Linked DNA regions of Homo sapiens. The protein of the gene in region 1 purifies or fractionates together with the protein of each later gene. This does not show direct contact. Each region holds a gene or a part of one and is shown in the gene's direction. Other genes may lie near its edges. The genes, in order: RAD51B, APAF1, TBC1D2B, C5orf34 and ZNHIT6.

What was found.
Region 2: the proteins of RAD51B (region 1) and APAF1 purify together in Homo sapiens (affinity purification with mass spectrometry; one large-scale study listed by BioGRID and IntAct). This does not show direct contact.
Region 3: the proteins of RAD51B (region 1) and TBC1D2B purify together in Homo sapiens (affinity purification with mass spectrometry; one large-scale study listed by BioGRID and IntAct). This does not show direct contact.
Region 4: the proteins of RAD51B (region 1) and C5orf34 purify together in Homo sapiens (affinity purification with mass spectrometry; one large-scale study listed by BioGRID and IntAct). This does not show direct contact.
Region 5: the proteins of RAD51B (region 1) and ZNHIT6 purify together in Homo sapiens (affinity purification with mass spectrometry; one large-scale study listed by BioGRID and IntAct). This does not show direct contact.

Annotation. Positions count from the first base shown.
Region 1 is NC_000014.9:67,816,328-67,823,498, forward strand, and holds the start of RAD51B (DNA repair protein RAD51 homolog 2), read left to right. Parts: upstream 1-3,451; 5' UTR 3,452-3,526; intron 3,527-7,171. UniProt on the Homo sapiens protein: Involved in the homologous recombination repair (HRR) pathway of double-stranded DNA breaks arising during DNA replication or induced by DNA-damaging agents. May promote the assembly of presynaptic RAD51 nucleoprotein filaments.
Region 2 is NC_000012.12:98,647,722-98,654,095, forward strand, and holds part of APAF1 (apoptotic protease-activating factor 1), read left to right. Parts: intron 1-597; 5' UTR 598-638; coding exon 639-776; intron 777-904; coding exon 905-1,094; intron 1,095-1,765; coding exon 1,766-1,963; intron 1,964-6,374. UniProt on the Homo sapiens protein: Oligomeric Apaf-1 mediates the cytochrome c-dependent autocatalytic activation of pro-caspase-9 (Apaf-3), leading to the activation of caspase-3 and apoptosis. This activation requires ATP. Isoform 6 is less effective in inducing apoptosis.
Region 3 is NC_000015.10:78,069,528-78,075,901, reverse strand, and holds part of TBC1D2B (TBC1 domain family member 2B), read left to right. Parts: intron 1-6,374. UniProt on the Homo sapiens protein: GTPase-activating protein that plays a role in the early steps of endocytosis.
Region 4 is NC_000005.10:43,486,209-43,491,552, reverse strand, and holds the end of C5orf34 (uncharacterized protein C5orf34), read left to right. Parts: intron 1-823; coding exon 824-922; intron 923-2,563; coding exon of another isoform or gene 2,564-2,594; exon of another isoform or gene 2,595-3,603; coding exon 3,604-3,644; exon of another isoform or gene 3,645-4,441; coding exon 4,442-4,638; 3' UTR 4,639-4,844; downstream 4,845-5,344.
Region 5 is NC_000001.11:85,679,207-85,685,580, reverse strand, and holds part of ZNHIT6 (box C/D snoRNA protein 1), read left to right. Parts: intron 1-4,676; coding exon 4,677-4,745; intron 4,746-6,132; exon of another isoform or gene 6,133-6,208; intron 6,209-6,374. UniProt on the Homo sapiens protein: Required for box C/D snoRNAs accumulation involved in snoRNA processing, snoRNA transport to the nucleolus and ribosome biogenesis.

The DNA of each region.
Region 1 (7,171 bases):
CCAAATCCCCAGGTGGTCGCCTCCTCAAGAATGAGAAATTCAGCAGGAACCTCCCTAGTTTGAGCCCTCTGTTAAGGCAGAGGATTGACGACCAGGAGACGAATCTGTGTCATAAGTGGAAAGCAGTGTGGGGGTGGGCCGCAGGGACGCTCTCTGCGGGGGTCGTGGAGAGGGGCCCCTCCCTCTCAGGGGTGTCTTACACTCACCTGCTCCCGGCGCCCAAAGCAATAGAGCTCTCAGCGCAGCCATGTTTGAGCCGAGTCAGGTGACAGAACCCACTCCGAACAGCGGTGGTGGGGGTGGTGACAAAGACTGAAAGCCCCACTCCTATTGGCTCAAGGCAGGGAAGATGAAAATTAAGTGCCATATTTGTTTGAGTCACGTGACGCCACCTCTCCGGGAGTAGGGAAAGCTAGAAAGCTCGGAAAGAGGAAATCAGCTACCTGGCTGCGGACCATCTCCCTCAATTGTGACAGCTCCGGCGCTCAATACTTTCAGTTCTGCATTCGGCCGAGCAGGTGGCAGGAAGAACTGTGACCCTGGATTTTTTTTTTTCTTCCACTCTCTTATCTCCTTAACATGTGAAGTCAACATTTATTGAACGCCAACCAGTGATGGTGTTTTGCCAGGCGCGGGGGATACCCGGAGCTAGGAGAACTGGGTTCTCCTCCATTATTATTCTATCTACTGGGCTCTTTTGTTCCGGAACTCTGCGGTCTGAATTTCCATATTCTTCTGCTTCACTCCATTCATTTATTTGCACATTTACCCTACAACTGTTAATTGAACGGTGTGCTAGGCTTTATTTTATTTTTTTAGAGACAGAGTCTCTCTGTCGCTGGAGTGCGGTGGTGTGATCTCGGCTCATGGCAGCCTCGAACTTCCTGGATCAAGTAATCCTTAAGCCTCAGCCTTCCTGTAGTAGCTGGGACTAGAGGCGCGCGCCACTACACCGGGCTTAGGCCCTATTCTCTAAGTTGAGTAAATGGAGGTCCTTCTTCTCAAGGGAGATGCAGGCCAAAAATTAGGAGACGGTGGGCTAAATTATAAGACAGAAGTATGCATAAGAGATCAGAGAGCAAAGAATGAGCAAAGGCTTTTTCGCAAACACAATAATCTGAAACCAAGTCTTTTGTTTTGAGACAGAGTCTCGCTCTGTCTCCCAGGCTGGAGTGCAATGGCGCGATCTCGGCTCGCTGCAACCTCCGTCTCCCGGGTTTAAGCGATTCTCCTGCCTCAGCCTCACTGTGTAGCTGGGATAAGCGATTCTTCTGCCTCAGCCTCACTGAGTAGCTGGGATTTACAGGCGCGCGCCACCACACCCGGCTAATTTTTGTATTTTTAATAGAGACAGGGGTTCACCATGTTGGCCAGGCTGGTCTCGAACTCCTGACCTCAGGCAATCCGCCCACCTCGGCCTCCCAAAGTTCTGGGATTACGGGCGTGAGCCACCGTTCCCAGCCTGAAACCAACTCTTGAAGTAACGGCTTACTAGGTTTGCTCACCACAGCTGCCTTACACCAAGCCTTTTGTTTGGTTTCCCTGGTGTGCTTTAATCACAGACTCTCAGCTTTCCTCACTATGTGTGTTTCAGGTTTAGTAATTTCATTCAGCATTTCCCAAACTATTTAATCACCAAAGGGTGGTGAAAAGAGCAAGTTAAAACAAACAAAACGTTTTCTTCCAAAAACTCTTCTGTGATTGGTGGATTGTCCTCGATTCCTGAGAAAAGTAACATGGCTTTCTGGCCCATTAAGGTTTTTTTTTTTTTTGAGGCAATGTCTGGCTCCTCTCACCTCAGCCTCCCAAGTAGCTGGGATCACAGGTGCCTGCCACCATGTCTGGCTAATTTTTGTATGTTTAGTAGAGGCGGGGTTTCGCCATGTTGGCCAGGCTGGTTTCGAAATCCTGAGCTCAAGTGATCTGCCTGCCTCAGCATTCCGAAGTGAAACCGCCTTTGCAAAATTATAACTGAGGAAATTATGACAGTGAAAGAAATCAGACCTAACCGACTCTATCTTGCTTCTAACCGTTAAGCTGTCCTTGTTCATTCCTGGGCGTAGGCTGAACTAACTTTGGGGAGGAATTCAGTTCATGGTTTGACTCTGAAACAAAATTGATAACAGCCCTTTCCGAAAAGACCCACTTCTTGCCTGGGGACCAGTCTGCCTTTGCAGGACTAACAAATTAGCTACAAGTTTAGAAATTACAGTTTAGAGGTCATGCAGCCTCTGGCTCCAAGAGTCTGAACCTCCCCAAATTGCTCCCGGGGGTGACATCACTATTGCAAGCCCTAAGATCAGTGCTTGAGATATTTTGTAGACCCTGCACTCCATGGATCAGCTGACACCACTCAGACCAGTAATTTGGCGCAACCAGTTTTGCCATCACACCCAGGAACAGAAGACATTAAGAAAACCTCACTTCGACCCCTTATGATTCCATCTCCAACCTGACCAATCAGCACTCCCCACTTCCTAAGCCCCTACCAGCCAAATTATTGGTAAAAACTCCGATCCGCAAATGCTCGGGACAACTGATTTAAGTAACAATAAAACTTCAGTCTTCCGCACAGCTGGCTCTGCGTGAATTACTCTTTCTGCATTGCAATTCCCCTGTCCTGATAAATCGGTTCTGTCTAGGCAGCTGGTAAGGTGAACCCATCGGGCAGTTTCAAAAGTGCTGGGATTACAGGCATGAGCCACCGCGCCCAGCCTATTTTTTGTATTTTTTTGTAGAGGCGGAGGGGTGGGGGAGGGTGTCTCACTATGTTGCCAAGGCTAGTCTCGAACTCCCAGGCTCAAGTGATCCTCCCGCCTCGGTCTCCCAAAGTGCTGAAATTACGGGCGTGAGCCACTGCGTCTGGCCCCTTTAAGCCATTGTGAAAAGTGATGATACACGAAAAAAAAGATTTCCAGGGCCGAGAGCGGTGGATCACGCCTGTAATCCCAGCGCTTTGGGAGGCCGAAGCGGGCGGATCACGAGGTCAGGAAATCGAGACCATCCTGGCTAACACGGTGAAACCCCGTCTCTACTAAAAATACAAAAAAATTAGCCGGGCGTGGTGGTGGGAGCCTGTAGTCCCAGCTACTAGGGAGGTTGAGGCAGGAGAATGGCGTGAACCCAGGAGGCGGAGCTTGCAGTGAGCCGAGATCGCGCCACTGCACTCCAGCCTGGGCGACAGAGCGAGACCCCGTCTCAAAAAAAAAAAAAAAGAAAGAAAAAAGAAAAATTTCCAAACAGGGTGTTCCCTTGTTTCACATTCTCTTTGGTGATGGTCCTGCAACAGATTTTGATAATCACTATATTGAGAAACTGCTTCAGATTCGATCTGTTAGGCTGATCATAGTATTAACTACAATTCCCAGCAAGCCGCGGAGCCAACCTGGGCCTCTGCCGGCCTCTGATTGGATACAGTAGCCAGAATGACGACTCAATCAGTGCTTCGGTTGTTGCTTTGCGGCGTTTTCCGCGGGGAAACTGTGTAAAGGGTGGGGAAACTTGAAAGTTGGATGCTGCAGACCCGGTACTGGAAAGTTTCATGTGGGGTGCCGTTGTGGGGAAGTGGGGTTCGCTCATTATTTCCTGCTCCTTCCCTAGGCTCGTGGGTTTCGATATTGGGGGAGCGGAGATTTTCTCTTGGGTGCTGGTCACGCCCCCTTAAGACTCGGGATCGTCACTAAGAACCCCGCTGTGAATTGGGGGAGCTTCGGGCCTTCTTTTGGTGGGGAATGCTTGGAAGCTGCTCATTGTTGGAAAAAGCTCTTTTTAGGGGATTCTGGGTGATGTTTCCGCCTGTTGCTGCCCATCTTCCTCCCCAGCCCCTTCCCGCTTCGGGCAGCCTGTCATTAGGGGAAGTTGAGGGACTCTCCCACTTCAGGTGGTGTTGGAGAGCGTGGAATCTGGAGTCCGGTCCCTGGATTCGAATGCGAGCTTCACACCAATTGTCAGCTGTTTAACTTTGCCCAAGTTTCTCAACTAGTTACCTCAGTATCCTTATCTGTAAAGTGAGGTAAAATATCCGAAGCCTTTGGAACAGTGTGGCACGTAATAAGGGCTCAATAAATATTAGCTAATATTGTTCCTAAACAGTTGTTGAACATCTAACATGAAGAATTTTCTTTTCTTGGTGGTAAGGAGGACAGGGTTCATTCTCCAGGGTTGACCGTCTCCCCTCATGTGCAATACACATACGTGCTTTCGCGCACACATACACCGCAGGAATTTACGTGCTCCGGTGGGGGCAAACAAACTTGCAAGCCATAATAGTATTTTGATAAGATTATCGAATAGATATGTGCGAAGTTGATGAGAACATTGGAGAGGAAAAGACTTGACTCTGGGGAAGGTTTTGTGGAGGGAAGTCAGGGAGACAGGATGCGTGACCTACCAATACACATACCATGTGGCTGGAGGGCAGATCATGTGAGAGTCATTAAATGATGATTGCTGACCTTAAGTACTATGTGCCACGCACTCCCCGAGTCCTTTAACCTCCACTACAGTCATATGAAGTAGTAAATTCATATGACTGTAAAACAAGGGTTTTAAGGAAATTAAGACACTGAGAGGTGAAGTAACTGCCAGGAAGGATAGGAACTGAACGTTGCAATGTGATGTATGAGTGAGAAGGAAGTGAGGGACCAATTTTTGATGTTTTTCTCTGCGACCCTAAGAAGTTTGGAATTTATCCTGTGGTCTACCAGTCCCATGGGAAGTGTTAAAGGATAATCGTGACTTTTTAGGAAGCTACTCAAGGCAGGATTGTGACACTGATCTGACTTTTGCAGGCGAATTTGGGGCTTCTTCCTGTCTGCTTCCATAGCACTTTTAAATAGCAATTGTAATGCTTACTGCATGGCTGTAGTTATTTGTGTGTACCTCTCTTTTCATCTCAACTATGAGTATTCAAAGGGGAGGGAATATGCTTAAATGATTCTTGTACCCCAGACCTCAGCAGGGTGTGTATTTAAATGCCTGTGGAAGGAGTAAATTAAGGAACAAATGAATGGAGTGGCCAGAAACAATATGCAATAGTCCAGGCAAGTGATGGGAGTGGCCCTATTAAGGCAGAAATGGCAGAATTGGTTGTTGTTAAAGTCCTTGTAGTTTAGAATTTATAGTTTTTTGTTTGTTTGTTTTTTGTTTTTGATAGGGTCTCAGTCTGTTCCCCAGGCTAGAGTGCAGTGGCATGACCACAGCTCACTGCAGGCTCGACCTCCTGGGCTCAGGTGATCCTCTCATCTCAGCCTCCTGGGTAGCTAGGACTACTACAGGTGTGCGGCACAATGCCCAGCTAATTTTTGTATTTTTTTGTGGAGACAGGTTCTCTCTATGTTGCCCAGGCTGGTCTCAAACTCCTGGGCTCAAGCAATTTGCCTGCCTTAGCCTCCCAAAGTGCTGGGATTGTAGGCGTGAGCTACCTTGTGTGGCCTATGGTTCTTTTCTTTCTCCTTCTTTTTTTTTTTAAATTGAATTTATCAGTCTAAATGGTGTCATTACTTGAAACTACCTGATCTGAAAAGACACTAGGCAATATTATAGCAGGTATCACTTGGTTTTCTACTGGGGGAAACAAGTCATTGCTAACAAATTCCCATGGAGAGAAATGAGGAGGATGTATTTTTGTTTGTGAGAGGTGTGTATGTATGTATATTGTGTGTGCGTGTGTGTGTGTGTGAGAGAGAGAGATTGATTCAGTCTGATTCAGAGAATTTAGGTGTTAAATAGAAATTTGGGCCATGGTATTGGAAATAAACAAATATATACATTCTCAGTATACATATATTTTCATTCCAAAATGTTACTTCTTTTCTGATAACTATATTGCTTTATTCCTTGGATCCATGAAGAGTTCCTGTTTCAGTTCGTTCCAGAGGATACTTCTTTACCATCTCAATGAGATATACAGCTTCTCCTTTGTATGCATTAAGAGACTCACAGTAATTCTTTTTTAGCTCTGTGAAGATAAATCTTTCATGAGCCTCATTTACCCCTAGCAAGGTACAATAGTGAAATTTAACTGCATGTGAGAATATAAGCAGCTAGTGTAATAAAGAACATTTTGGGCCAGGTCTGATCGCTCATGCCTGTAATCCCAGCACTTTAGGAGGTCAAGGCGAGAGGATCACTTGAGCCCAGGAGTTCGAGACCAGCTTGGGCAACATGGCAAAACCCTGTCTCTACAAAAAATACAAAAATTGGGCAGGCATGGTGTCGACCCTGTCTCTACAAAAAATACAAAAATTAGCCAGACATGGTGGTGCACGCTTGTGGTCCCAGCTACTTGGGAGGCTGAGGTAGGAGGATTGCTTGAGCCCAGGAGGGGGAGGTTGCAGTGAGCTGAGATCGAGCCACTGCACTCCAGCTGGGGTGACAGAGCCAGACCTGTCTCGCTCTCTCTCTCTCTCTCTATATATATATTTAAAAAGAACATTTTAATACTGCAGTGATAAAATCTCATTTGATTCAGAAGGTGTGCTCTGACTCCTAGAAAAAGGAAGAGTTAAATATGATTATGGACTTGCAGTAGAGTGTAATGGTTAAGAGGATAGGTTTCAGAATTAGACTGCCTGGATTCAAATTCTGGATCAGTTATTTATGTTTTCTGGTGACAATGGACTAGCTAACTTTTCCAGGCTTTAGTTTTCTCATATGTAAAAAAGGGGCCAATAATCTACTTTCCTTCTAGGGCTATTGAGAAGATTAAATGTGATAATTTAGATAAGTTTTGGAACAGTGCCTGGTATGTGGTAGGTGCTCCATAAATATACCTATTGCCGTTACAGTGCAATGTAAATTGTTACAGTGCAATAGACTTTCTAGTAGTTCTGTTTGGAAATATGCCTTGAAAGTTAATTACATTTCCAAATAAAATTTATACATGCATTGAACATTTTAAGATGCTCTACAAATGTGAAGTGGTACTATATTCATGTAGTAAATATCAATTAATTGTGTGAAATTATATTTGAGGTTGCCTTGTAGATTTTCTATGTGCCTGTTTGACGAACAATTGTCCCTCCTATTTAAAACATTTAAAAAGGTTCTATAGCATTCCTTTATCAGTAATATTTTTAACACAATATGTTTCATTTTGCATATGGAGAAACTTGAGGAATTTTTAATTTTGTTTTGGATAGCCTATTCACTATCACTTATGTTATATTCT
Region 2 (6,374 bases), on another chromosome or scaffold:
TTTTCAGCAACAGTATTATGAACATCTTTCCATGTCAATACATGGAGATATGTGTCATAATTTTGAATGGCTGCATAATATTCCATTTTATATACATACCCTAATTTTTAAAATCTATATTCAGAATGATGGACATTTAGGTTGCGTTCATCACTGAAACATCCTCCATTAATTCTTTTTTCTTTTTATTTTTTACTCTAGCCTCCCAATGTGCTGGGATTATAGGCTTGAGCTACCACACCTGATTGGAAACTCATTAATTCTCCTTGTGGATATTTTTACATATGTATTTGAATGTCTCCTTGAAGTAAATCCTTAGAAATGGGATTTCTGGGTTAGAGAGAAAGCTTATTTTAAACAATTCCATATCTTACTGCTTTCCAGAAAAATTGCATTCATTTTCTAGTTTCCCCAATTAGTGCATAAGAATGGCCATTTTCTCATACCTTTCCAAGCACTGGGTTTTGTCCATTTAAAAATTTTTGCCAAGGAAAAAAAATCAGTTTTGTTCTTTTTACGTTTCTTGTTTATTAGTGAGATTATGTATCTTTTCATATTTTTATTGGCCTGACAAATATTTTGGTGTTTTGGCTGTAGCTCATGGTTGACAGCTCAGAGAGAGAAAGATCTGAGGGAAGATGGATGCAAAAGCTCGAAATTGTTTGCTTCAACATAGAGAAGCTCTGGAAAAGGACATCAAGACATCCTACATCATGGATCACATGATTAGTGATGGATTTTTAACAATATCAGAAGAGGAAAAAGTAAGAAATGAGGTAAAGCTCTCTGAAGCAGTCCACACTTCCTTAAAAATTTTTAGAATTTCAGAACTTGTACTGGTCTCCACTACTTTATGTTGCATACATATTCATTGTTGTATACTAAACTACTTAATTTTTTTTAGCCCACTCAACAGCAAAGAGCAGCTATGCTGATTAAAATGATACTTAAAAAAGATAATGATTCCTACGTATCATTCTACAATGCTCTACTACATGAAGGATATAAAGATCTTGCTGCCCTTCTCCATGATGGCATTCCTGTTGTCTCTTCTTCCAGTGGTAAAGATTCAGTTAGTGGAATAACTTCGTATGGTTTGTATCCATTATACCTTCTATCACTTTGCTATCAAAATTGCTTTGGGTTTGTCTTATTGTAGATGTAATCTTTTGAAGAGAGTGTGACCAGTTCACTGAAAACTGCATGTTAAAAAAATTGTAGTGATGTTTTCAATTTAAATATTTTTTATTTGCATCCACATTAACTCTCAACTTTTCTTCTTGCCCAGTGAACTGTACTGCTGAGATAATAATATGTCTACCCTAATTTTTAGAGACAATAAGACAATTTATAGGCCCTTGTTTATTTTCCAGTTCTATGTGTTTATAGAGTTTATAGGAAAAAATAAGAATCTTTAGAAATATATGTTCTTGAAAGGTATTCCATAAATGTTCTTCCTTTTACACTTGCCTTCCCAGTCTTCAATATGAGAGGGAATGAAAAGTCAGGAAATAATTGGGTGAGTAAAGCAGATATAGATAGAAACTTCCATTTTCTTTAGTCATCTTGAAGGATATATGTTTGTCTTTGCTCTCTGTTGTCTGAGAAATCAGAAAATTGAAGTTAATATGCTAGCCACATTTTCTTAACTTCTCTTGGAAATTTTCAGGCTAAGCCTCAGCTTTGCTCTTTGTTTTTTATGGTATTACTTCAGTAATTATTCCAAAGTTCTATTCATTCATGCTTGTTTTGTTTTGGATTTTAGTAAGGACAGTCCTGTGTGAAGGTGGAGTACCACAGAGGCCAGTTGTTTTTGTCACAAGGAAGAAGCTGGTGAATGCAATTCAGCAGAAGCTCTCCAAATTGAAAGGTGAACCAGGATGGGTCACCATACATGGAATGGCAGGCTGTGGGAAGTCTGTATTAGCTGCAGAAGCTGTTAGAGATCATTCCCTTTTAGAAGGTAAGTGTCTTAGTCCATTTCATAGTCTAGTAAGGTAGATAGACATGTAAAAATATTATGATATATCAATACGTGATAAATTGAATGGTAGAAACAAGTATAAGGTACAGAGTTAGAACAAAGGAAGGATATGTTAACTCTCTGAAGGGAGGGGATGGATAGGACAAGCTTCCTGAATGAGATGACATCTTAGCAGGAGTTTGGAGAAAGAATAAAAGTTAGCTAGGCAGTGAAGGTAGGGATGGGAGACTAGGGAAGGTGGGAAAGGTAGTGGGTGGTTACTGGGGTGGGGAAGGGCATACTGGGTAGAAGAGGGTTTAAGAAATGTTGGCAGGTATACCACTGACCTTAGCGATCCTGGTAGGTTCTCAGGGTATTCATCAGGAATAGTTGTATAGCTCCATCAGTTCTAGGCTGCCCCCATTCATCAGTGTGTTCTCATTCATCAGTGTGTTCTCTCTGTATGACACTTCTAGGGGAATTCAAAGACAGTTCCCAACTTCTAGTAGTTAATAATTTTTTTTTTAGTAGGCCAGGCACGGTGGCTCATGCTTGTAATCCCAGCTGAGGCGTGGATCACCTGAGGTCAGGAGTTCAAGACCAGCCTGGGCAACATGGTGAAATCCCGTCTCTACCAAAAATACAAAAAAAATCAGCTGGGTGTGGTGGTGAGCACCTGTAATCCCAGCTACTCGGGAGGCTGAGGCAGGAGAATCACTTGAACCTAGGAGGCGGAGGTTGCAGTGAGCTGAGATCGCACCACTGCACTCCAGCCTGGTCAACAAGAGCAAGACTCCATCTCAAAAAAAAGTTTTTTGTTTTTTTTTTTTTGATATGTATGTATAACATGATCTACGGTTAAGACAGTTTAGACAGAATGATTGGAATAAGTAGTAAGCCTCTAAGAGACTTAGAAATATGGAGGCTAGGGTATATCTATGTGTACACATGGCCTCAGTTTAATTTCATAGCCTTTGTAAGTGGTATAGACTATACTCTTGTCAGAAGTATGCCTGATTCCTAACCCTTGGTTTTTCCCCTCTATCATTACAGAGAAGTTTCCTGAGACTTAGCTCCTTTCAAGTCTCAGAGCCAAGGATTTTTTTAAGCCCCTACTGCAAAGTTGATCACTAAGGATATTTCAGGATAAATTTAGCTTAAGTTCCTTTAGTGTGAAGGAATGAGTTTTCCTTTCAATATTATGAACTTTCTTTGTGTATTTATAATATTCCAATTTATAGGTTTAAAAGAACACTCCCTCTCCCCATTTAAATTGCTCTACATTATTGTGATGAATTTTCAATTCTAGGGATTAAAATTGACTAACAATCTATGGAATTAAATATTCAGGAGTCATATTGTATAAATTGTTATCTTGGAACAGGTTTTAACTACTTTGTTTTGAGAAAATCCTAGAGATACTGGCAACTGTACATGTGAGCTTAATTCATATTCCTCGTACTTTTGTGGGATCTCAAGTTCAGAGGACTGAGTTATTCATATTCCTTAGTTCACGGCTTATTATAGTAGATCTGTACTAGGCTGAGCTTTTCACTGTATTTATTTATTTCCATTTCAAAATTTCCTATTCTTATTTCCTTTCCCCTCTCCATGGACAATCCTAATGTATTTAATGTATGTTCTTTGTAAATGTCTGTGTAAAGTGTGTACTCTTGTAAAATATGTATGTTGTTGGTATGCAGGTATTTTAAATTTGCATAGATGTTATGGTATTATTCTGTTTTTTATCTCCCATGACACAATGTTTTTAAGATTTATCCTTGTTGCTATGTATACATGTTATTTGTTACACCTGATTGCCACCAACCCATTTTACTGCTCATTACCCTAAGTAAATGGATATGTAGATTGTATCCAACTCTCTGCTGCTGCAGCAAAGCTGGGTTGAACTTCTATGTGAGTAAGAATTTCTTGGGTATTTGTAGCTAGGAGCAAAATTAGTAATTATTTATTTATTTTTGTTTTTTTTTAAAGAGACAGAGTGTCACCCTGTTGCCCAGGCTGAGTGCAGTGGCCATATCATAGCTCACTGCAGCCTCAAACTTTTAGGCTCAAGTGATCCTCCCACCTTAGCCTCCTGAGGAGCTGGGTGCACACGCCACCATGCCTGGCTAATTATTTATTTATGAAACAGGGTCTTGCTTTGTCACCCAGGCTGGAGTGCAGTGGCACAATCTTGGCTCCCTGCAACCTCTGCCTTCTGGGCTCAAGTGATCTTCCCACCTCAGCCTCCGGAGTAGCTGGGACCACAGGTGCATGCTGACACACCCAGCTAATTTTTGTATTTTTTGTAGAGTTGGGGTTTTGTCATGTTACCGAGGTTGGTCTCGAACTCCTGAGCTCAAGCAATTCACCCACCTTGGCCTCCCAAAGTGCTGGAATTGCAGGTGTAAGCCACCATGCTTGGTGTGTTTTTAAACATTTTTTTGTAGAGACAGGTTTTTGCTATCTTGTCCAGGCTGGTCTCAAACTCCTGGGCTCAAGTGATGCTCCCGCCTTGGCCTCCCAAAGTGCTGGGGTTACAGATGAAAGTCACCATGTCCAGCCAAAATTACTAAATGATAGGATATACAAATACCAAATTTGATTCCCCTCCAGTCTGTACATTTCCCCCAGATGAGTATGGGGACTCCGATAATTCTACTTGTGCAGTGACGGTTGGTATGATCCAGCTTTGTAATTTTTGCCAGGCAAACTTCTATAAAGTTGTGTCTTTTACTTTGCATTTCTCTGGTAACTCAAGTTTGAACATTTCTTCATAAGCTTGTTGTTAGCCTTTTGGGTTTCTTTTTTTATGGATTTTGTTTATATTATTTGTCTATTTTCCATTGGGGTTTCCAATTTTTTTTTCTTTTTGCTTTTTAGGAGTTTCTTATATATTCTAGACATTAAACTTTGTTGGTTTTAGACTTTTATTTTATTTTATTTTATTTTTTTTGAGACGGAGTTTCGCTCTTGTTGCCCAGGCTGGAGTGCCATGGCGCGATCTTGGCTCACCACAATCTCTGCTTCCCAGGTTCAAGCGATTGTCCTGCCTCAGCCTTCTGAGTAGCTGGGATTACAGGCACCCACCACCACGCCTGGCTAATTTTGTATTTTTAGTAGAGACGGGGTTTCTCCATGTTGGTCAGGCTGGTCTCGAACTCCCGACCTCAGGTGATCCCCCTGCCTCGCCTCCCAAAGTGCTGGTATTACAGGCGTGAGCCACTGTGCTCAGCTGGTTTTAGACTTTTAAATACCTTATTTTAATTTGCCATCTGATTAATTTTTTTCCTGGGTGTTCTCAGTAGACGAGAACTCTGATGTAGTCAAACTAATCAGTTTTTTTTTTTGTCTTCTAACTTGTGTTTCCTGAGTTTTGTTCAAGTAGTCCTATTACAGTCTTATTATTCATATTTAGTTCTTTATTCTCTGGAGTCTGCCTTTGTATGTCCACTAATTCAAGAATAGGTGCTTTCCCAAAGATAAATTTTAATCTCTGGAGTTCACTTCCATTCTCAAATACAGGAACATTGGATTTTTGACATTTAATTGTATTGCAAAACCTTTTCTTTTAAAAGTACAGATAATATAAGAGATCTAAATTTGATTAAAATTGTGGTTCCTATGGAAATGTTTTCTTTGGGTGGTGATTGGCATAAATTAAAGAATATTAAGTTGTTAACTTTTAGCTGGGTGTGGTGGCTCGTGCCTGTAATCCCAGCACTCTGGGAGGCCGAGGTGGACAGATCATTTGAGGTCAGGAGTTTGAGACCAGCCTGGCCAACATGGTGAAACCCCGTCTCTACTAAAAATACAAAAATTTGCTGGGCGTGGTGGCGCATGCCTGTAATCCCAGCTACCCAGGTGGCTGAGGCATAAGAATCGCTTGAACATGGGAGGCAGAGGTTGCAGCGAGCCAAGATTGCACCACTGCTCTCCATCCTGGGTGACAGAGTGAGATGCCGTCTCAAAAAAAAAAAAAAAAAAAAAAAAAAAAAAAAAAAATATATATATATATATATATATATATATATATAGTTTTTAACTATTTATGTCTATACAGTTTTAAGTAACCCAGTTGTCTTTTGAAATTTCAATGCTTTAATTTTTTCTTATTTGTAGGGAAATAGTAAAGAATTGACGTATCTTTAAATACAGTAGTGACATTTTACATTACTGTATTCGTATGTTGGTTTTTAATCATGGATGCTTTCTTCATAGGCTGTGTTCCTATTTGTTTCTGTCCTTTCCAAGATTTCTTTGTGTTATTAGATTATTAATTGCTACCAGGATAAGCCTCCTGTGAAAGTAGTGTGGAGTTTTCCCTGAATAAAGGCAACTTTTCTCTGAATTAGTTTCTCTGAGTGAATTGTAAATACAGCCTCCTCATGCAAAGCTAAATTGCTCC
Region 3 (6,374 bases), on another chromosome or scaffold:
AGCTGAGGACTGTTCCTCAGACCCCCAGAGCTGCTAACAGCTGGAGCTGCTCCCTGGAGATGTTCTTAGAGCTTTGCTGACTCAGCTTTTGCCAGTTCAAGCAGGATCTGATTCCCATGTTCTCTTGGGCTCCCCTGTCCTGTCTGTAAGTGGGTGCAGACAGCCTGTTTCCCCAAAGAAAACCAACTCGGGTTGCAGTCCTACACAGGCTTACTTAGAGAGTGCCTGTATAAACTTGGTAATGACCCTAGTGGGAGACCTTTGCCAAAGGCAGAGGCTCTTCCTCAGTGTACATACGGGCTGTCCCTGTGTCGGACGAATTTCCTGTGGGATGTTTGTTAAAGAAAATAGAGCATCGTGTTTCACATTTTTCCCAGATGACTGTAGAACTCTATCAGTTTTTTTCATTAAAATAATCTGAATCTCCTGTAATCCCAGCACTTTGGGAGGCCGAGACGGGTGGATCACGAGGTCAGGAGCTCGAGACCATCCTGGCTAACACGGTGACACCCCATGTCTATTAAATATACAAAAAATTAGCCAGGCATGGTGGCGGGTGCCTGTAGTCCCAGTTATTCGGGAGGCTGAGGCAGGAGAATGGCGTGAACCCGGGAGGAAGAGCTTGCAGTGAGCAGAGATCGCGCCACTGCACTCAGCCTGGGTGACAGAGTGAGACTCCATCTCAAAAAAAATTAAAAAAAAAATAATAAATAAGAATCTACATAAGCAGGGTTACAAGGCGCATTGTCAGAAGTGTGGCTTTAAACTTCGATGGACTTGAACTTGAAGCAGGAGTCTGCTGCTCACACATATTGGACAAATTACACCAGTTCCCTGCTCCAGTTTCCTCTTTGGTCTAGTGGGAATCATACCTTCCTCATTAGGTGGCTGTGAGGATTCTGGAGAATGTTATGGAAAATGGCTGGCGCATTTTCCATAGTGGTATGGAAAATAGTAGGCACTACATGGCATATGAAACATCAAGCAGTGTCTTTGGCCAAATATGTAGTGTATTCATATAGTGGAATATTATGCAGTAGTAAACAAAGGTACTAGAGCTATAGGTGTCAACGTGGATTACTCTCACAAACAATAAAATTGAACAAGAAGTAAGTTACACACTGATTGTGTTCAGAATGATACCACTTATAGAAAGGTTAGGAAGATCATGTGAAACAGTACTACAGATCATAAGGATGTATGCTCTTTCGCGAGGGGAAGAGCTTTATGGGGCTGATGAGCTCTGGTTTCCAGGTAGTGGTTGCCTGTGATGGGAAGAGGGAGGATGTGATTGGGAATGGGTGCCTCAGGGCTTCTCCTGTTTTGCAGTGTTTTATTTCTTGGACTGGGTCATAGGTATATCAGTGTTTGTCCTATTATGCTATCCATCTTTTTGTAGGTTCAGAATATTTCTTTTTTTAAAGAAAGGAAATACATTTTCCTTTGGGTTACTGACAATGGAGGAATATTTTGACATGTAAAATTAAATTGGTCACAGAATAAGATAGTACCGAGTGTTGGCTGTATACAACAATGGGAATGGAAATCAGGCAAGGCTTTCTGGAAGAAGGGAGGAGAAGGCCGGGCGTGGTGGCTCATGCCTGTAATCCCAGCACTTTGGGAGGCCGAGGCGAGTGGATCACTTGAGGTCAGGAGTTCGAGACCAGCCTGGCCAATATGGTGAAACCCCATCTCTACTAAAAATACAAAAATTGGCTGGGCATGGTGGCGCACGCTGTAGTCCCAGCTGCTCGCGAGGCTGAGGCAGGAGAATTGCATGAACCCGGGAGGCGGAGGTTGCAGTGAGCCGAGATCACACCACTGCACTCCAGCCTGAGCGACAGAGTGAGACTCCACCTTAAAAACAAACAAACAAACAAACAAACAAGCAAAAAACACCCCGACTCTAAAACCCTGCTCCCTTTTTTTTTTTGAAACAGAGTCTTGCTGTGTCGCCCAGGCTGGAGTGCAGTGGCACAGTCTCTGCTAACTGCAACCTCTGGCTCCCGGGTTCAAGCAATTCTCCTGCCTCAGCCTTCCGAGCTGAGGGACTATAGGCGCGTGCCACCGCTCCCAGCTAATTTTTGTATTTTTAGTAGAGACGGGGTTTCACCATATTGGCCAGGCTGGTCTCGAACTCCTGACCTCGTGATCCACCTGCCTCTGCCTCTCAAAGTGCTGGGGTTACAGATATGAGCCACCGCACCCAGCCAGGCGTGTGTTTTAAGAAAATTAAATTTCATTGTACAGTTATTTCTTTTGAGCTGTAGGAGTAAAATCTTTATGGTGTAAGTATGGAAATTACCAATTTATCTTCCTTTTCGTCTTTCAAATGCAAGAACTGATTCCCTTAAGCCTTAATGTTTCACTTTAGGGCTGCCCAGCCATAGAGGAGACCCTGATTTCTAAGGATTTTAAGTTAGGATTTAGCCCTGCTCAGACTTCAGCTAGTGGTATATAATTTTACAAATACCATTTCTTATCACAGAGGGTTAAAAAGTAAAGAAAAATCAGCACTTTTCTTATTCTATTATCATATGTTTTTCTTATTTAAAAGTGTCTTTCAGCTCTCTCTGGAGAAGCTGTGGTTTTGTTGGGCTTTTTCAAAATGTTTTTCTATGTAAGTCTTAATGAAAGCTGATATAGGAATTTCTTGGGAAACTCCTCTATTCCCAAACTTAGGGATTTGATCTGGTGCCTTATGAGGTAATAGAGGCTAGAGAGGGGATGTGATTTTGCCAACATCATGAAGCTAGACTCAGACCCTCTCTGAAAGTAGAGGCTCCAGGAATAGTGAATGTCTAAAATGTGTAGTATCTAATTGTATTGTCTGTTCTGACAAGTCTGCTTTTTTTTGACTTTGTTGGGGATCGGATAAGGCGTAGTAGTAGTCTTTCCTTCTATTGCATTTAATATCTGTCCTTTTTGGATAGTGGGTATCACAAGGGAACATTTTACTGCCCAGTTCTTTACCAGGATGCCTAGTACCTTTTGCTGGACATGTCTGGAAACTGCTGCAAGGGTCTAGCAGAGGCTGATGCTTCCTGTGTGCGTCTCTCTCTGTGTGTAGGGGTGCTGGAGGCTTCTCACAGAGCTTTACTGGAATCTGAGGCACTTAGGGGAAGGAGAGCATGTGACTGACCGAGGGTGAAGCTTAAACAGCCTTGATCTTCCAGATCTCTGCAGACTTTGGAGCAAGAGAGCGTCATCAGACCGTCAGCAAATGAATTCCTCCCTCCGTAGGTGCTTGGTGCTAAATAGACATGTGTACTGGTTTCTGAGCCACACGTAACTGAATAGCTGTGTACCCCTATTCTTAACCACTTTTGTGGGAATGCACATTCCCTGGTGTTGAAATTTCTCTTAATGACAAACATTTGTCGGCTTGGGTAATCATATTGTTTTCAGTGCAAAATAGATGTGGTGAACCAGCCTCCTTTGCTGTTTGGTTCTTCTAAGCTGTTCTGCCCTAGGGCATCTGCTCAGTCTTGAAGCATTATTTAACTCTTTAAGTTATGGGAATTTAACTTTTCATGGCTTTCCAATTAGTAAGTTCCTTCAAGGCAAGTCCAGTATTGTGCTTGTGATATCACAGTGGCATTCCGTCTCCCTCTCCCACTGCCTCACACAGTCCTCATTGCAGGGGAGTCTCCATCCTATTTCCTGCTAACCAGAGGGTAAGCTCCCTAAGGACTGTGTGTATCCTCAGCTCCTGCAACAGTATCTGGCACAAAGGAGACATGCTATAAACTAGTGTTTGTGTTCCTGAAAAATTCGTATGTTGAAGTGCCAGCTCCCAGTGTGATGATATTTAGAGGTGGGGCCTTTGGGAGGTAATTAACTCATGAGGGTGGAGCCTTCACGAATGGGATTAGTGCCTTTATAAAAAGAGACCCTGGAGAGATGATCTCCCCTTCCACCTATGAGGATACAGCAAAAAGGCATTCCTTTGCAAACCAGGAAGAGGGCCCCCGCCAGGAACCAAATTGACCAGCACCTTGATTTTGGACATTCCAGCCTTCAGAACTGAGTAAATTTCTGTTGTTTAAGCCACTTAGTCTGTGGTGTTTTTGTTATAACAGCCTGAACCGACTAAGGTAAGGTGCCCAGGTAGACATTTGTTGCATGAATGAATAGAAAATGGTCACCCAGTAAGCACTGGTTTTGGTGTGAGCCCTGACCCTTTAGAAGTGATCAGCCAGAACTCCCAAATATACAGGTGTATTACATGCCATTCTTGCCTCATGTCATGGAGGTGGCAGCCATTCAGTGAATGCCCACTGAATTTAACAGACATCAGGAATCCAAAAGGGGGTTATGACTCACCCTTCCCCAGAGGAGAGAGCTTACAGTCAGTTCCATATTTTCGGGTCTCATATATTTCATGCCCATGGTCAGGACTCCAAGGACACTGTTATAGCAGAGGCAAACTTTTTATGTAAAGGGCCACATACTATTTTAGGTTTTGCGCACTCTGCCATATCTGTCACTATGCTGTTGTAGTACAGAAACAACCACAGAATGAGTATAGCTGTGTTTTAACTTTTAGTTATGGACTCTGAAATTTGGATTTCATATAATTTTCACATTTCGCAAAATATTCTTTTGATTTTTTTCAACCATTTAAAAATGTTAGCTGGGCACAGTGGCTCACTCCTGTAATCCCAGCACTTTGGGAGGCCGAAATGGGAGGATCACTTGATACCAATAGTTCGAGACCAGCCTAGGCAACAAAGTGAGACCCTATCCCTACAAAAATTAAAAAAAACTAGCCAGGTGTGGCTGGATGTGGTGGCTCACGCCTGTAATCCCAGCACTTTGGGAAGCCGAGGTGGGTGGATCACTTGAGGTCAGGAGTTTGAGACCAGCCTGACCAGCATGGTGAGACCCTGTCTCTACTAAAAATACAAAATTAGCTGGGTGTGGTGGCGGATGCCTGTAATCCCAGCTGCTTGGGAGGCTGAGGCAGGAGAATTGCTTGAACCCAGGAAACAGAGGTTGCAGCAAGCTGAGGTGGCGCCATTGCACTCCAGCCTGGGCGACAAGAGCGAAACTCTGTCTCAAAACAAAAAACAAACTAGCCAGGCATGATGGCACATGTCTTTAGTCCCAGCTACTTGGGAGGCTGAGGCAGGAGGACTGCTTGATCCCAGGAGGTGGACATTGCAGTGAGCTGTGTTTGCTCCACTGTACTCCAGCCTGGGTGACAGAGGGAGACCCTGTTTCAAAAAAATAAAATAGCAAAATAAAAATGTTAAAACTGCCCTTGCCTTGTAGATTGTACAGAAATAGGCAGAGACTGGAAATGACCGCAGGCTGTAGTTCACTGACTTGTGTTCTAGGAAGGCCTCAGGAGCTTCCCACTCATTCACTCACTGTGTGTGCTTAGGCACTGGGGATATGACTGGACAAGACAAACAGTCCCTGTCCTCCTGGAGCTTTCAGTAGGTGGGGGGGACAGACGTTAATAAAATATAACAAACACCAACCAGTGCTAGGAAGTTTGAAAGGAAAGATATGCAATGCATGTATAGTTCAGGATCTTGATCTGGTTTATGGTTGGTGGAGGGCTAGGAAAGACTTTCCTGAAGAAGCGACATTTGAGCTGAGACTCAAAGGATGAGTTGGTGTTGACTGGAGCGGGGGTGGGGGTGGAGAGGAGGAAGTCAAGTGTTGTAGGGAGAGGAAATGGCATAAGCAGAGGCCCTTAGGTGGGGGTGCTGGTTGCATGTGGGACTCAAGGAGTGCCTGGTGGCAACTAGGAGTGAAGGGGACATAGCCTTTGGAAGAGGCAGGCCTTGGGCCAGGGCAGGATTTTGGTCTTCATCTTAAGAGCTAGAGTCAGTAAAGAGTTTTAAGCAGGGTTTGACAAATAGGTTTTTGTTTTCTTTCTTCTGCTCCCAGATAGATTGTTTTAGGCCATTTGTGCTGCTGTGAAAAAATACCGTAGACAGGGTAGCTTATAAACAACAGAAATTTATTTCTCATAGTTCTGGAGGCTGGGAAGCCCAAGATGAAGGCACCAGCAGATTTGGTGTCTGGTGAGGGCTCACTCTGCTTTAGAGGTGGTGCCTTCTAGTGGTGTCCTCATAGCAGAAGGGGACAGACAAGTTCCTTCTGGGGCCTCCATCTATGTATGTTTGTATATATGTATGTATGTATCTATCTATCTAAATGTATTTTTCTCCTCAAATTCCTTTTACCACTCTGGCCTCTTTCATAAGGACCCTGATCTCATTCCAGAGGGCTCTGCCCTCATGACTTAAATCACTTCCCACAAGGCTTCCCTCTTAGTACTATCATCTTGGGGACTGGGTCTCAACACGTGAATTTTGCGGGGACACACGTTTGGACTGTGGCACTGATGGTTTGGT
Region 4 (5,344 bases), on another chromosome or scaffold:
CTGTATATTTCTATAAAGTGGATAAAATTACGCAATGATTATCTTAAAATGGGGAAGAGTCTTCAGCTTTTTATGAATTTTTTTTCTTTTGGTTTATCTAATTTATTACAGTAAATCTTGTGATAGTCTTCACATTTTAGTGATTTCACTTGAGAATATTCACAAAATAATAGCTTTTTGTTACCTCTTGAATGTATTTTTCTGTTGGGTTTTATTGTGTTTCAGTCTAAGTGCTCATTCATTGCTATTAATGATTTGCCTCAAAAAAGATAGTTTCTTTAGCAAACATTTCTATTGATTCAGCCAATCATTTCAGATCATTCATTTTATTAAACTTGATACTTGTTTTAGATATGTAGTAAGTTACATATAATTACACATATGCATACAAGCATATGTGTATATGCATTAGCAGGTGTTTTTTGGTTTAAATTTTAGTAAGCAAATGCTCAGTCAGTCTTATTTTGTGTGAATATTTTTTGATAAAACTTAAACGCATTTTACTTTGAAAAACTAAAAGAATTAGAACATTTAAAATTGAACTTTAAATGAAATCCAAATATCGCCTTTATTTTGATTCTTAAATGTCACTTGTATTAATCACAAATATAAGTAAATCATTTTATTCTTGATGAATAATGGAAAAAATTTGGCTTTTCTATGACCAGTGAAAAATATTTTGAGAATTGCCCAGTAAATGCTTCACTTTAACATTTTTTCTTTATCCTTTTTTCCCAAATTGTCTTATTTTTACATTTGTTTATAATTTTATAATGTATTCAAGTTCATTTTTCAAGTATTTCTTTTAATGTATTCACTTTAGATATGTGACAACAGTAACATCATGGTGCAGGAGACTGACCCAGACTAGTCCCAGAGAGATGCCCACTCATTCGTCATCTTCTGTTCTCCAAGAAAATTGGTATTTTTCTTTTAAACTTAAATCTGTTTAGAAGAGCTAATACTTTAAAAAAAATTAAAATGTCAAATGGTAAACTGAGACTTTTTTCCCCAAAAAAACTTTCTTAGTTTTGAATATGTTTAACTCCTAAAGTATTTTTGATAGCTTAAGCTTGAAAATAATTTCTAATCAGACATCTAATTTATTACATTTCATCATATTCTATTTTACCTAAAGGTAAGAAAACCTTGCATTGAAAACTTAACATGAAAATGAGTGGCTCTTTTTATGTGACAAATTCATCCTGAAAACTTTATGGAAAAATTTAAAGGGGATTCTTAAATTTTTAGTAATGTTGAAGGAAATAAAAGGTTTAATAACATAAGCTTTCAGAAAACATTGATTTTTAAATAATTTCTGTCATATTAGTTACTTCTCCCAAATTAACTGGCAGATCAAATAAAGCAAGTATTTTAGTCCCTCCTGTGTGCTTTTCAGTGTGCAGGGTACTAGAACTGGGCTTCAAGGGAACTTTCTGTGAAAATATAAGACATTTTAGGGAGGAAATAAGGGCAGAAGTAAAAAGGATATTTTAGCCTGTGGAGATAGAAGATAGTTTTTATGGAACATATGCTATCTATTAGTATATAGTATGAGTTTTGAGGGCTAGGAATGGATCTTATAATAAATAGGAGTTCAGACCTGATGGAATTAGAAAGTCCTAAATGGAAAAATGATAGGAAGAAAGGTCATTAGAAGATTAGTGTCACTGAGAGTCTAACCTGAATATATGGGAAGACAGGGATACCAGGAACAATTTGGGAAGCTTTTTAAGTAAGTTTTGTGAGGTGACCTAACATAGTGTAGTGAAACAAAATGTAAACATTAAGCCAATTTTTGTTACCTTTTCCTAAGCCCTTTCTTAGAACAAATCAAATCATATCAGTAAGCGTTATTTGAATATCTCAGGTAGCTTAAGGATCCAGCTTTGCAGATCCCTCATCCTTTAGCTGTAGCCTGTTTGGAAGCAGAAAAGTTGCTAAAGTAACTAGCAAAAAACAATTGTGATGGAAGGAAAATTGTACTTGTCTATAAAACCATCACTTCACCATTGCTTAGCTGGCAGTTTGTAAAATATCATCAGCCTTTTTATTTGAAAGCTGAGAAGAGGCTGTCAATACACACTAAAAACTGCAAGTAGAGATTGGTGATAGTAGCTAAAGGTGAAAGCAACTAGGAACAGCAGAGGCAAGATAAAGAAATTGAGGAGTAGCTCCATTCCCCCTATAAAGCCTTAGGTATCTCCACTTCGGTTTTTCTTATCAAAGAGGGTAGGTTGAAGGAAGAAACAAGATTGTACAATAAAAAGCTACCTAAGTTGTATTCTAGTATTTTTTTTCCGCCACACCCTCCATTATTAGCTTATTAATTCAACTTTTTAGTCAACAAATAGTACGTTTCATAAAAAGTTCGTTCATTATGAGAGCAATAACAATAAAGGTTGTATTGTTTCTTACATCCAGAAAAATGCGTTGGGTTTAAAAAAAAAAAGATATTTTGCAATAATGAACAATCAGCTGGTTGTTGGGGTAAGTTGTATCCAAGTTCTTTGCCACAGGTGTTTAAAATTATGAAATATTTCTTTTCATTCTCCATCCATAGGCTGGAGTACAAGGGAAAGAGTACAAGCTGACAGGGAGGTGCATGTGATCTGTTGTAGTAAAGCCAATAAAGCAGACAAGTCACACAACCTACTACGAACTGTGAAGATTTTTCTGGTGACTTGAATATTTTAGACTAATGTCTTCATTAATTTTGCAGAGAGCTAGTCAAGTTACAGTTTGTAGTTGTATGCCATTGCTCATATTTCATTCTAACTTGATAAGAAAAAGGATAAAGAACACACACTTAGGGGTTCTGCTGGAGACGTATATATTAGCCCTCTACTCCATACCAGTTGTCCCACTATCTTTCTATAGAACATGGTATAAGAGCTAATGTTCATCATGTTAACCCTCTGTGCTTAAAAAAACAATGAAATAAGTAGGTAGTCTATTCCAGAAAGAATTTAATAAAAAATAGTTGTTTTGACACGTAATTCAACTATTTAAAAACTTGGATCTCCCATACCATCCATTCCCAAAGAGTTCCATATAAATGAGGTCTTAATATATGCACAAGTACAGAAAAGTAAAAAATCCTTTCTTCTGAGAGAAACAATCTAGGTAGGAAGAGCAGGAAGTTAAATAGTTCAAGAGAAGATATTACAAATAAGTATGTGATTAATTAATATGCTATAGGAATTCAAGGAAGGAGAGAGCAGTTCTTTCACAGAAGGAATGGGATTTTAATAGGTTTGTAAAGTTTGCGTAAACTTTAGGGAGGAAAGTAGAGTGTAAGCTAGGTTAGTACTAAGAAGTAACAGGAAGGCCCATTATCCTCAAACATCAATATTTGATTACAAATTCCTTGAAGTGGATTTACAAGGGGTAGACTTTTATTCACTTACCTTTAAAGGCACTCAGTAAGTATCAGTTGAGTCAAGTTGATTTGTTGCTAAATAAAGGTAACATAAAGAGAATTCTTCTGCGTTCTTCCGTTTAAAATTCTAATGAAAAAAAAAGTCAGGTATGCTTATTTGAAATATCATGAATACAAAAGAATCAGACAACTGAATGAATTTTTTCTTTTTCCTTGGACAGGTCTGTTGCTTCTGAACTTGAAAAGATACAGAAGTTTAACTGTATCCTTTAAACAGAATGCACTGTCCTACATAATTACTCTCTTTCATTCTAGGCTTAATTCATGACTTCAGTACTTTGTGAATATTAATCTATACTTAATATATTGCTAACCTTTATTGAGTCAGCAAATACCTAAGATTGTAATTTAAGATGGATCTTGTCCATAGAAGGTATAGCATGTTAACATTTATACTTTTCTTTGAGTTTAAATTGGGCAAAGAACAGTTAATTAGGGTTAAGGTCTCCTTTGGAGACTTTTTCACTTACATAATTATATAATAAAATTATAACTGTTTAAGACCTCTTTTTTTAAATGAAATATTTCATTCTGTACATTCTCACCCAATTCATCTAAATTTGTTTTCTCTTGTGGTTTTTCTCTAATCTTATTCAAATAAGTTAGTTCTATAGCGAACAGGTTTTTCACTCTAAATCTTTTTAAATTAAAAATAGACACTACACAGATTCCTTATAATCCTGTCATCCTACTCTTTAATTCCCGTGTCATTTCTTCACTTAAAGAAATGTTACTGAAATTTTCATTTCCTCCTTACCACCAAACCTCCACCCAAACACACACATACACACTCTATTCTCTTTCCCCCTCCCTTATACTGTAATTAGTTTCTTCATCTACAAGGAGCAGACTTGATAAGCCTTGCAGTTCCAACTGTATTATGAATCCAAGAGGTCTTCCAGCTGAGAAATATTTTAATATGAAGCCTATGCTTTCTGTATATAAAGATATTTATATAGTGAAAAATGTGGGGAAAACCTCCTTAACTAAGCAACTTAGTGCTACTAGAAAATAGTGGTATCCTAAACCAGATTTCTAACAAGAAAAATGAACAACAGTCTTTTGATCATTATAAACCAGGATCTTCAGAAACCTTGCTAGGAGAAGTTAATGAAAATAGAGTATCAATAGCATTGAAAAAAACCTCTGAAATCCTTCACGATATTGACTGTCTTCTATCAAACTCTAAAAAGTGAAAAATGGAATTATTACAACATATTATTAAAGTTTAAGGATGTTGTTTCAAGTGACTGGTATAAAATTACTAGTAAGCCAAGATATTGTACGTATTACCCCGGCACAATGATTGTGAAAGAACTGACATTTAACTTTGAAGGTATTTTTAACTTGTACATTTTTAAAATATGTATTTATATCTTAATAATAAATATTTCGAAGTTTTGAACGTTTCACATTTAATTCTTATTTCAGATTAACAAGAAAAAAAATTTGTAACATTATAAAGTTGTTGCTGTTTTTATCTTGTGGAGCATTCACTATTAATCTTCAGGTTTTTTCATTTTGTTTGTTTTTACTGTTTGAGATACGGTCTTGCTTTGTCACCCAGGCTGCAATGCAGTGGTGCAATCATAGCTCACTGCAGCCTTGAACTTGTGGGCTCAAGGGATCTTCCCACCTCAGCCTTCTGAGTAGCTGGAACCACAGACATGTACCACCATGCCTGGCTAATTTTTAAAAATTTTTTTTGTAGAGACAGGAATCTCCCTATCTTGCCCAGGCTGGTCTTGAACTCCTGGCTTCAAGCTATCCTCCTGCCTCCGTTTCCCAAAATGCTGGAATTACAGGTGTGAGCCACTGCACCCAGCCTCTTTTTTTTTAATATGCAGAATTGTGCATTTGTTCACTTGCTATTTGGTCCCTTTACTCCAAGTATTTTTCAGT
Region 5 (6,374 bases), on another chromosome or scaffold:
AGCCCACAAATCATTATGTGGAAGATTTATTTAATAATACAGACATATTCGTAGGTAAAAATTAAGTCAAGTCCTTTTATAATGTCAAGAAATAATCATAGCTAAAAGTTTGGGGTATGGCCTTCATACTTGCCAATATATGTATAAACCTGTGTTTTAAATATAAAGGCTATCATTCAACATGCACATTTTTCTACATCAGTACATAAAGTTCTGCCTCATCTTTTATGACTACTTAAAATTCATTATGTAGATGTACCATGATTTATTTAATCAACTTTCTGATGATGTACATTTAGGTTGTTTCTAATTTTTTTCTATTATATAAAGTGGTGCAGTGGACATTTTATATATATATCATTACTTGACCAATTATTTCCTTGGGATACATTTCCAGGAATAAAACTATTGAGGCAAAAATATACAGTTTTTCAATTACAAATTTTTATTTATAGCTTTTATGAAATTGAACTACCAGTAGCTTGCACCAATTTATATTCCTGTCAGCAATGAAGTTGCCACACTTTTGCCACACTTCCTTAGTATTTCTAATTTAAAAAACATTTCTACAAACCTGAAAAGGAAAAATATTTTATTTATATATACATTTCTTTGGTTATTAATGAATTTGAACATCTTATTGTGACATTAGAGCAGTGCCATTTAAAAGGACCTAATGACTTTTGATTTGCATCTTTTTCCTTGGGATTGTGGTAGTATTCCCCATACGAAAATTTGCAATTTGAAGTTATGAAGTCAAAAGAATAATTTAGATTATGGTTATAGAACCTCTTTCCTTAAATGTGTGTGTTCATCCACATACTTTCTTGAAACTGTGGGAGAGAATGATCCCTTTTCTTTCTATTTTTGTAAACAAATGGGCCACGGAGAGACTGATCCTTAACAGTTTCTAGTAAGCAAGTGTTGGTAAATAAGTGCTCTGTATTAACTCACTGAAAATGAGTATAAAATATTTATTTTCCTCATTTAATACAAGTGCCATCTAAGTATTTTTCAACTTTTTTTTTATTATTGCCTCCCAAGGAGCTTTCTGCCGTGATATTTTGATACCATAGATACACTGTATATCTGTTGCATACAGTAGCCCTTTGTAGGGCCACAAGCATTAAAATAGCAAGATTTTGTTGGCCCTTCAGAGAACCAGTTTTTGCCCTCTTTGGGGCCATGCTGCCCTCATTGAGAATGCATGTGTGTATTGATATTTAGAGGAGGAGAGGGAAACAGCTTTGCTATGCATGAATAGTTACTTGGGTTTCATAGGACTCAGAAGAGGTTAGTGTTTCTGTTGCTTTGTCAGATTGTCCAGAAGGGAACATAAGGATTAAGTTGCCACAATTACTCCACCAGTCTTATCACCCAACTCTAAACATGGTATCTTGGAGTCCCTAAGTTACCTAGAATATACTAGGTATAGTAATACCATTTTTGAGAACGTTGATATGCCAAGGGTATAGTGACATTATTGTAGTTGAAGGCATTTTGTTGAATTTAGGGAACAGTAGCTCTAATGCATTAGGAGTAATTGTAAATGTTCAAACCTTTATCCTTGTGGTTCTCAAACAGTGATGATTCTGCTTCCAGGGGACATTTGCAATTTCTGGGAGCATTTTTGGTGGCCACAACTGGGTGTATGAGTGTTCCTAGTGGAACACTCATCTAGAGGGTGGAGTCCTAGGATGCTGCTAAACGTCCTGCAGTGCAAAGGACCAAGTCCTTTGCAAAGAATTATCTAGTCCAAAATATCAGCACTGCTGAGATTGAGAAACCCTGCTCTGTCTTAGTGATTGTACTTCTTGGAATCTAGCTTTAGAAAGTAATCCAAGTAATGTTGCTAGGATTTTGATGTATGTATATTTTTTTAAGTGGGACATATATTTGTATATATAATTATAAAAAAATGAGAAACAAGCTTAATTCTTTCAGTCTTAAGAAGAACACATGTCAGGACTTACAGTAATTTCAGCAATACTGAAGAATTGGAAACCATTTTAGAGAAAATTAACTCACCCATTTCAGCAATTTTTTTTTTTTTTTTCTGTGACGGAATCTTGCTCTGTCGCCCAGGCTGGAATGCAGTGGCTCAATCTCAGCTCACTGCAAGCTCCGCCTCCCGGGTTCAAGCAATGTGATTCTCCTGCCTCGGCCTCCCGAGTAGCTGGGACTACAGGCACATGCCACCACACCTGACTAATTTTTTGTGTTTTTAGTAGAGACGGGGTTTCACCATGTGAGCCAGGATGGTCTCGATCTCCTGACCTCATGATCTGCCCACCTTGGCCTCCCAAAGTGCTGGGATTAGAGGCGTGAGCCACCTTGCCTGGCCTAGCAATTTTTTCTTTTTTTTGAAACAGGGTCTCATTGTGTCACCCAGGTGAAGTGCAGTGACGCAGTCGCAGTTCACTGCAGCCTTAATCTCCTGGGCTCAGGTGATTCTCCCACTTCAACCTCCAGAGTAGCTGGGACTATAGGCATACGCCACCATGCCTGGCTCATTTTTGTATTTTTTGTAGAGATGGGGTATCATCATGTTGCCTAGGCTGATCTCAAACTCCTGGGCTCAAACGATGCGCCCACCTTGGCCTCCCAAATTGCTGGGATTATACAGGCTTTAGCCACTGCGCCCATCCCCAGCAGTTCTTTATACAACACCCTTCAACTTCTGTTTGCCCACCTTGGGTTAAAGTACATATAAAGAATCATCTACTGTTATCAATAGCCCTTTATTTCTTAGAAGAAATAAAAGTACCTCAAAAATACGGCAATTTGTAAATGAGTTAAATCTGAATATGGGTGCATTGAGTGTTCTTTACATTATTCTGTTTTTCTTTGTTTTTGAAATATTGGAAGATCACATTTTAAAAGTTAGTGTACTTTTCAGATTTGTTCATGTGTGAGCTGAGGCCAAATATAGAAATATTTTTATCAATAATTTGGCAATGTATAGCAATGAATGACTTTGTTATAAGTAGAGCTAGTTAACTACAACAAATAAAATGATTTCCGAGGGCTTTTCTCTCTGTGTTTGGAATGTTAAGTGCTTTCTGAATGTATTCAGGGTGTATTAAATGTTAAAAGGCGAATGGTTTTTGAAATTACTCAAGCAAGAATTGGGGTGATTGAGTATGGTTTACAATTCCATAAGATGGCAAGTTGGTAATCCTTTTTTTCCCTAAGTTAACCTGAAAAAACATACATTTAGGAAGAAACTATATTATGCATTAAGATGAACAAAATGAGGCCGGGTGCGGTGGCTCATGCCTGTAATCCCAGCACTTTGGGAGGCCGAGCCAGGTGGATCACGAGGTCAGGAGATCGAGACCATCCTGGCGAACGTAGTGAAACCCTGTGTCTACTAAAAATACCAAAAAAAAAAAAAAAAAATTAGCCGGGCGTGGTGGCGAGCACCTGTAGTCCCAGCTATTCAGGAGAGAGGCAGGAGAATGGTGTGAATCCGGGAGGCGGAGCTTGCAGTGAACCGAGATCATGCCACTGCACTCTAGCCTGGGCAACAGAGCGAAACTCCGTCTCAAAAAAAAAAAAAAAGATGAACAAAATCTGTTTATTTCTTATTAAAAAAAAAAAGTCAGCCTTGTGATAATGCTATTATGGTATTCCTATTTCACAGATAATGAATATTGCAAAATGTTTTATTTTGGAAGAATTATTTATTTAAAACTAGTAACTGTTGCTTTTGCATTCAAATTTTTAAATGTTTTTTCCTCTGAGATTTTAGACATCTGTCCTTTAGATTAGTAAAGGGTACTTTTCAACTTTGTTCTCAATAAAATTATGTTCTTTGTCTTCTGACAGAAATTCTACTAAATCATATAGATGTTTGGTGAAAGATAGATTGTATTAAAAGAAAATTATTTTAGATTTTGGGGTCCTACTGCTATGGGATAGATTTTAAGGAGATATCGGTAGTCATTAACTTGCTCTAATGGATTGTTAGAAATTTCTTCTAAGTAAGGAAAACATTGTGTAAAATCATCATGTAGTGAAGACATTTAAATTTCTGTATTGGATTCAATATTTTGAGCATTAGAATTTTTAAAGAAGGAATCATGTCAATGTCTCTAAATTTAGATATATTAAATATAGTCATTTTTCTAAAATCAGACATTTAGTGAGTTATTGCTGTTGATGCTATGTCAAACCAAAGTTTAGACCTGAAAGCAAAAAGACTGTAGCTCAAAGTGCATTCTGCTTAGCAACCAGCTTGTTGTCTCCTGTTTTGCTACTGAATGCACGTACTCATGCCTCAGAAGTGTATCTCCAGCCAGCTGGACTCAACCGGACAATACTTCATTCACCTAATTTCCAGACTAGTCAAGCAAAGACATCAGCTCATTGTATTTAGTCATGAGGAAATTTATTTGTAAACTTCAAATAGTAGCACACTGCTCCCAAAAGCCCCTGAACTATGAGAAATTGCTTTCTGATTCAGAAATGTGAAGTCCTTGGAATTTAGAACTGCTTCCCTTTTTTTTCTTTCTTAATAACCCTTGCAAGAGAAATTAGCTCTTAATAGAAAATATATGTTAAAGTCTAAGAATAATTTTGGAATTATCTTAAAGTGAAAATTTAGAAAGTTCAATTTGCATCCAGACTTTTATTATCTACCTTGATTCTCACATGATTATTTTCTCTCTTAGAAAACAACAGTTTTGTTGGCATGTGAAGCTCCAGTTTCCTCAAAGTCAAGCTGAGTACATAGAAAAAAGGTATCACTGCTATCTTTCAATCACTGATTTGTTTTAATTTGAAGGCTGTGTATTTAAAATAAACTGTTAACTTAATGTCAGTAGTAGAATGGATAACTAAATTGTGGTGTATTTATACAATGAAATGCTAAACATCACTAAAAATGAACTACAGCTATGCACATCAACATGGATGAATCTCAGAAATAATATAAGAAAAGCAAGTTAAGGAAGAATGTAGAGAACATGATTGTAAATATGGGGGAAAAAAGCCAGAAAACTAAATAGTGTACTTTTGGGAATACCTACAAAGGTGATAGAACTAACTCTAAGGGAAATTATTAACATAGAAATCCTGATGATGGTTTCTTTAGCAGCAAAGCAAGTATTGAGGAGAGGGATCCGAGGAGAATTAGACGGCTGAAAGTTTCCTATTTCTTCAGCTGGGTGGTTGTTAAGGAAGTGAAAAATGACCCAAAATTCTACCATGCAAAGATTACTACTATTAACATTATAGTGTATCACTCAGAAAATACATTATTTTAGAAGTATATATGTGTACTCATTGGAATTAATTTGCATAAAGTTTTTGTGTTACTGTTTCATATTAAAACTTGTTCTTTTCTTTTTCTTTATTTTTGGAGGGGAGTGGGGGCAGGATCTTGCTCTGTTGCCCACGCTGGAGTGCAGTGGTGCGGACCTCCGCTCACTGCAGCTTCAACCTCCTGGGCTCAGGTGATCCTCCTACCTCAGCCTCCAAGTAGGTGGGACTAAAGGCTCAGGCCATCACGCCCAGCTAATCTTGTTTAGTTTTGTAGAGGCAAGGCCTCACTATGTTGCCCAGGCAGGTCTCAAACTCCTGGCCTCAAGCAATCCTCCCCTCTCTGCCTCCCAAAATGTCGGAATTACAAGTGTGAGCCACCGCATCCAGCCTATAAACATTTTCAAGTGTCATTTAAACATTTTAATGTTGGCCAGATGCAGCGGCTCACACCTATAATCCCAGCACTTTGGGAGGTCGAGGCGGATGGATTGCCTTTGGCCAGGAGTTAGAGACCAGCTTGGCCAACATGGTGAAACCCCGTCTCTACTAAAAATACAAAAATTAGCTGGGGGAAGTGGCGCACCCCTGTAATCACAGCTACTTGGGAAGCTGAGGCATGAGAATAGCTTAAATGCAGGAGGCGGAGGTTGCAGTGAGCCAAGATCATGCCACTGCACTCCAGCCTGGGCGACAGAGCAAGACTCTGTCTCAACAACAACAACAAAAAAATTAAAAAAAAAAAAAAAAAACATTTTAATGTTTGTGAACTATTTCATTCCTTGATTTAGGAAAATTTTAAAGTTGCTCTTTAAGTAGTATATTTAGCATATTCCTATATTATACATAAATATCCTCTCTTTGTAGTTGTCAAAGGGATTTTAGTGAAGAACTTTGTTATTTGGAGTTGCATACAAGGAAAAGACTTATTTTACATCTAGGGGTATGTAGCCAATAGTATATATGAATATGTATAAATGGTTGAGGAAAGTTACTGTTTTAAAACAGTGTCTTAATTTTGTTTATACAGCTTTATAGATAAGTTTAAAACAGCGTGCATATATGGAAGAAAGTTGGAAAACTTAAAATGTTTTGTTTCCAAGGAAATT